2 linked regions of the Homo sapiens genome follow. The protein of the gene in region 2 purifies or fractionates together with the protein of the main gene of each other region. This does not show direct contact. Each region holds a gene or a part of one and is shown on either strand. Other genes may lie near its edges. The genes, in order: DERA and PAAF1.

Region 1 (2,602 bases), on a different chromosome or scaffold from region 2:
ACAGATGAAGAAACTGAGGTCAAGAGATGTGAACTGACTGGACCAAGGAGTCAAAGTCAGAAAGAGGGAGAGTTCAGGCTAGAATTCAGCAGGTGAGAAGATGAAACCAAAACTGACTTCCAGTCCAGGTTTTTGCTTATGAGCAACTAGAGAGCCATTCAGGGAAGAAAAAGACTCTCCTGATGAAAATCACCATTCAAAGAAACACATTCTGTAACGTGGTAGAGGTGCTAGCAAGCAGAATCTCCGGAAGAGCGAGGCTGGGACAGACAGAGAGCAAAAAAGCCAGCCACCATGAGGCAGATTACCGTCCTCTCAGCTGATGGGGAGCTCTGTTTATGTACACCTGACTATGTGTACCGAGGGACAGGGAGACATGGGGGTGACTGCACGCACTTGGGAGCCAGCCTGTCTGCTTGGGCTTGATTTTTAACTCTGCTAATTTTGAGCAACCTTTGGCACGTTGCTTAAACTCTTTGTTCCTCATTCCCCTGTCTGTATAAAAGGATGTTTACATGAGTACTTACTGCTATAAGAAGCAAAACCCTTAACTGTATTTACCTTACTATTATGAGGATTAAATGAGAGTTAAATAAATTGATATATGTAAAGCTTATTACACAGCAAGTGCTGTTAATATCTACTGTTTTCCTCCATTCACTATACCAGAAAATTTGAAGTTTCAGAACACATACATAAGTTGCATTCATTAATAACATACTGGGGTGTTTTACAGATATATACCCAAGGAATCAACTAGAGAGATTCAGAGACTCACTGATCAAACCTCTTTTTATGTTTAATGGATTATTTTTTCATTATGTATTGTAACAATTTTTAAGTTTTTTAAAAAAATAAACTATAGGAACTTTATTATTTTAAAAATTTTAATGATATTCATCGTTGTATATGACAATGTCAGAAATTTCATTAGGACAACAATTAATAAAAGCGCCTATCCACGGCAAAAATGAAAGATGAGTTTTCACAGCAGGAAATTAGTGCTGAATCAGTGACTCCTGAAGTCGTTACAGCAGCGCTTGCGAGATGTTGCATTTTCCTCTGCTAGGGCACACTGCTTGGGCGGTTTAATATTGTTTTTTTCTCCCTTAGAATTTGATGTTATCAAAGCTACCATTAACATTTTACTTAAAGTTTTTAGGAGAAACTCTTCACAAAGTTAATAGTGCAGATCTTCTAGTAATTAAGATCATTTCAGATGTGCCTGAAATGAGTACCACATGTGGATGAGTTTGCTTTTTCCATTCCATTAAGTTCGGTAGAAATTTTAAAGAGAGGAATGCCAGTTACCTACTGCCCAATTTTTTAATTAAATAATTTTAGCAATTACGTAGAAAAATAATTTTTAAACATTGTCGTAAAGAACTTTTCTGGAACTGGTGACTGATTTAAGACATTGGAAGATCATGATAAGCTGCATATCTTCCAGTCACATGATGGTAAATCTGTGAGGAAAAGCAGAGTTTAATTAACAATCATTCTATAATTATACACATCAGTTAATAATTATACTATCAAATAATAATAAATAGTTTTAATGAACATTTCATTAGAAAGCCTCACTAGTATGTGCTTCAGCAGAATCTCCACCCTACTCACTTCTGATGGCGGTTTGCTTGGAAGAAAAGGTAGAGGATTGGGTAGGATGAGGTCAATCAGATGAGTTTTTATCTCCAGTTCTCAATTTGACTTTTCAATTCCTTTCTCAAAAAACACTTGTTAATTTATTCCAAAGACAGAGATGATTACTCACCTGCCTCTCAATGTCCGAGAGCAGAGTACTGGCACCTATTCGAAAGAGTTCTGGCTTCAGCCACTCATCTCCAAGCTCCTCCTTTACAAGAGAGAGCCAAGCAAGGGAATCCTTTGCACTGCGGATGCCTCCTGCTGGTTTAAACCCTATCTAAATGGGAAGGCAGAGAATAGAACAATCTTTATTGTTATTGGATTTCTTTTAAAAATAGTACTATGTTTATCAGAGTCTTGATTCTCTCTCTCCCTCTTTTGTTGAAAAAAAATCTTTTCACTTCATCCAGTGAAAGGGCTTAGATCAGTGACTCATGCTCATTCACACTACAAAACAACTTTTCCAAGATTTTTGGAAGAATGTCACTACTTCCAAACAGACACTAGTGAGGGTTAATAACCCTCATTAACATTTCACTTATTGGAAAGTCATAAACCTCCACCATCTAGACTATAGCTGTGAACCTGGAATAAACAAGGAAGGTGTCAATAAATAGGAAAACAGATCACAAAAGCAAAGCCCACTCATTCTACATTTCCACAAGTAAGCCTGTAGAGTCACTTCTCAGCCTTCATCTTGAGGTTCAAAAGACACGTGCATTTAAAATCAAAGGACAGAATCAGCAAGGCTGCAAGGTTACCCTAACCAAACTGGCAGCAAAAAAGCAAGGAAAGTTGACAGTTGTTTTAACCAATTTAACTGTGGGATTTTTTTTCTAAGTTGCAGGCACACACAGTTCTAAAAAGCTGGCAGACCAGTTACATAAGGGCAGTAGAAAAACACCGTGAGGGGCTCCTCATAGTCCAGTAGTCTTTAAGGTTGATCATAACACAG
Region 2 (3,827 bases):
AGGCACAAAAATCACTTGAACCTGGGAGGTGAAGGCTGCAGTGAGGAGCCGAGATTGTGCCACTATACTTCAGCCTAGACGACACAGTGAGACTCTCAAAAAAAAAAGAAAGAAAGAAACATTATACTAAGTGAAAGAAGTCACACAAAAGGCCATGTATTTTATGATTCCATTTATATGAAATGTCCAAAGTAGGCAAATCCACAGAGCTAGAAAGTAAACTAGTGGTTGCTAGGATTGGGGGGTGGAAAGTGACTGTTAATGGGTATAGACTGTTTTGGGGGTGATACTAGAAATAATATATGTAAAGTAACTAGCACATAGATAGCACACATTTTTATCTCAATAAAGCTGTTATTTAAAAACAAAAACAAGAAACAAGATGGTGGATCACACCTAGAGTCCCAGCTACTTGGGAGGCTGAGGGAGGATCACTGGAGACCAGGAGTTCAAATTCAGCACCTGGGAAACACAGCGAGACCCCATGTATTAAAAAATAAACACAGGAGTTCAAGACCAGCCTGGGCAACATAGTGAGACCTTGTCTCTACAAAAAATTTAAAAAATTAGCCAGGTATGGTAGTGCATGACTGTGGTCCCAGCTACTGAGGAGGCTGAAGTGGGAGGATCTCTTGAACCCAGGAGATCAAGGCTGCAGTAAGCCATAATCATGCAACTGTACTCCAGCCTGGGCAACAGGGCAAGACCCTGTCTCAAAAAAATAAGAACAGGCCAGGCACAGTGGCTCACGCCTGTAATCCCAGCACTTTGGGAGGCCGAGGTGGGCGGATCTCAAGGTCAGGAGTTCGAGACCATCCTGCTTAACACGGTGAAACCCCGTCTCTACTAAAAATACAAAAAAATTAGCTGGGCGTGGTGGCGGACACCTGTAATCCCAGCTACTTCGGAGGCTGAGGCAGAAGAATGGCATGAACCTGGAAGGCGGAGCTTGCAGTGAGCCGAGAACATGCCACTGCACTCCAGCCTGGGCAACAGAGCGAGACTCCGTCTCAAAAAAATTAGCCAGGCGTGGTGGCGCATGTCTGAAATCCCAGCTACTTGGGAGGCTGAGGCAGGAGAATCGCTTGAATCCAGGAGGTGGAGGTTGCAGTGAGCGGAGATCGCACCACTGCACTCCAGCCTGGGCGACAAGAGCGAAACTCCATCTCAAAAATAAATAAATAAATAAATAAATAATAAAAATAAAAATAAACACACACAGAAACAAAAACCACCCTCCTCCTTAAGAGTTGACATCATTAACTCCAATTCATAAAGAAAACTGAATCTACAAGTTACCTTCAAAAAAAAAAAAAAAAAAGTGCAGGCACGGTGCCTCACGCCTGTAATCCCAGCACTTTGGGAGGCCAGGGAGCGGATCACGAGGTCAGGAGATGGAGACCATCCTGACTAACACAGTGAAACCCCATCTCTACTAAAAATACAAAAAATTGCGGGGCACAGTGGCTCACGCCTGTAATCCCAGCACTTTGGGAGGCTGAGGCAGGCGGGTCACCTGAGGTTGGGAGTTCGAGACCAGCCTGACCAACATGGAGAAACTCTGTCTCTATTAAAAAAAAAAAATACAAAATTAGCCAGGCATGGTGGCACATGCTTGTAATCCCAGCTACTCGGGAGGCTGAGGCAGGAGAATTGCTTGAATCTGGGAGGCGGAGGTTGCAGTGAGCCAAGATGGCACCATTGCACTTCAGCCTGGACAACAAGAGCAAAGCTCCATCTCAAAAAAAAATACAAAAAATTAGCCGTGCATGGTAGCACGCGCCTGTAGTCCTAGCTACTTGGGAGGCTGAGGCTGGAGAATTGCTTGAACCCAGGAGGCAGAGGTTGCAGTGAGCCAAGATTGCACCACTGCACTCCAGCCTGGGCAACAGAGTGAGACTCCATCTCAAAAACAAACAAACAAACAAACAAAAAAACTCCTTGGTTGTTGAAGGTAGCTTGGTAATTTAAAACAACAACAACAACAACAACATTAAGTTTGTTGCTTTGTAAAGACTTGATAATGTTTTTTTAAAACTGTTTTAGGCCGGGGGCAGTGGCTCACACCTGTAACCCCAGCACTTTGGGAGGCCAAGGCGGGCGGATCACTTGAGCTCAGGAGTTCAAGACCAGCCTGGCCAACATGGTGAAACCCTGTCTCTACTAAAAATACAAAAATTAGCTGGGCATGGTAGTAGTCCCAGCTGTAGTCCCAGCTATTCAGGAGGCTGAGGCACAAGAATCCCTTGAACCTAGGACTGGAGGTTGCAGTGAGCTGAGATCATGCCACTGCATTCCAGCCTAGGTGACAGAGCTAGATTCTGTTTAAAAAATACTGCTTTAATAGTATGTATCGGCAAGAAAAATGCAAAATATTAGGGAAAAGATCTAAAAAAATATAAACCCCAGTTGATGTTTTGCTCTTAGATTGCTTTTTTAGCCTAAGTAAAGATTTGCCTTGCTTTAAAGAAACTGTGCCTTTTGGTTACAGTTTATTACAAGATAGCCAAGGTCCTTGTAATAATAAGTGGACTAATAAAGAGAAGGTGAATTTTAATGTATGTTTATATATTTTAGTTAAAATAAAATGTAGGTCTTTTGTGTATTTTTATTTTATTTATTTATTTATTTAGAGATGGAGTTTCGCTCTTGTTGCCCAGGCTGGAGTGCAATGGCACGATCTCCACTCACTGCAACCTCCACCTGCTGGGTTTAAGCGATTCTCCTGCCTCAGCCTTCCGAGTAGCTGGGATTACAGGCATGCACCACCACGCCCAGGTAATTTTTTGTATTTTTAGTAGAAACAGGGCTTCACCATGTTAGCCAGGCTGGTCTCAAACTCTTGACCTCAGGTGATCCGCCCGCCACAGCCTCCTAAAGTGCTAGGATCACAGGCGTGAGCTGCTGTGCCTGGCTTTTTTTTTTTTTTTTTTTTTTTTTTTTTTCGAGACAGAGTCTTGCTCAGTCATCCAAGCTGGAATGCGGTGGCACTATCTGGTCTCACTGCAAGCCCCGCCTCCCGGGTTCACTCCATTCTCCTGCCTCAGGCTCCCGAGTAGCTGGGACTACAGGGGCCCACCACCACATCCGGCTAATTTTTTGTATTTTTTTTTAGTAGAGCCACCGCACCTGGCTTTTTTTTTTTTTTTTAACTGAGACAGGGTTTTGCTCTGTCTCTCAGGCTGAAGTACAGTGGCACAATCCTAGCTCAAGCAGTTAGAATAGGATTTTTGAACATAATTAAGCACAATAAAATAGGTAAAATAAAATACAGTATTTTCCTTGAATTTTTATGTTAAGTATACATATGTATATGTGTGTGTGTATATATATATATTTGTGTATTTGTGTGTGTGTTTCTTTTTTTAGAGCCAGGGTCTCACTTTCTGGTCCAGGGTAGGAGACCACGCAGCATGATCACGGCTACCCTTGTCCAGGGTAGGAGGTCCAGTAGCATAATCACAGCTCACTGCAGCCTTGACTTGCTGGGCTTGAGCAATCCTCCCACCTCTGCCTCTTGAGTAGCTGGGACTACAGACACCCAACACCATGCCCAGCTAGTTTTATTTGCTGTAGACACGAGGTCTCCCTATGTCTCCCAGGCTGGTCTCAAGCAATCCTCCGCCTTGGCCTCCCAGAATGGTGGATGACAGGTATGAGCCCCCACGTCTGGCCTTATTTTTAAGATGATTGGCAAGTCACAGCACTATAAAGTCCATCCTTTATTCCACTGATATAAACAATAGTCTTTTTTTTTTTAATGATGGGGTCTCACTCTGTCACCCAGGCAAAAGTGCAATGGTTCGATCATAACTCACTGCAGCCTC

Evidence for each region.
Region 1: the proteins of PAAF1 (region 2) and DERA purify together in Homo sapiens (affinity purification with mass spectrometry; one large-scale study listed by BioGRID and IntAct). This does not show direct contact.

Annotation. Positions count from the first base shown.
Region 1 is NC_000012.12:16,035,554-16,038,155, reverse strand, and holds the end of DERA (deoxyribose-phosphate aldolase), read right to left. Parts: intron 1,925-2,602; coding exon 1,775-1,924; intron 1,467-1,774; coding exon 1,410-1,466; 3' UTR 775-1,409; downstream 1-774. UniProt on the Homo sapiens protein: Catalyzes a reversible aldol reaction between acetaldehyde and D-glyceraldehyde 3-phosphate to generate 2-deoxy-D-ribose 5-phosphate. Participates in stress granule (SG) assembly.
Region 2 is NC_000011.10:73,879,806-73,883,632, reverse strand, and holds part of PAAF1 (proteasomal ATPase-associated factor 1), read right to left. Parts: intron 1-3,827. UniProt on the Homo sapiens protein: Inhibits proteasome 26S assembly and proteolytic activity by impairing the association of the 19S regulatory complex with the 20S core.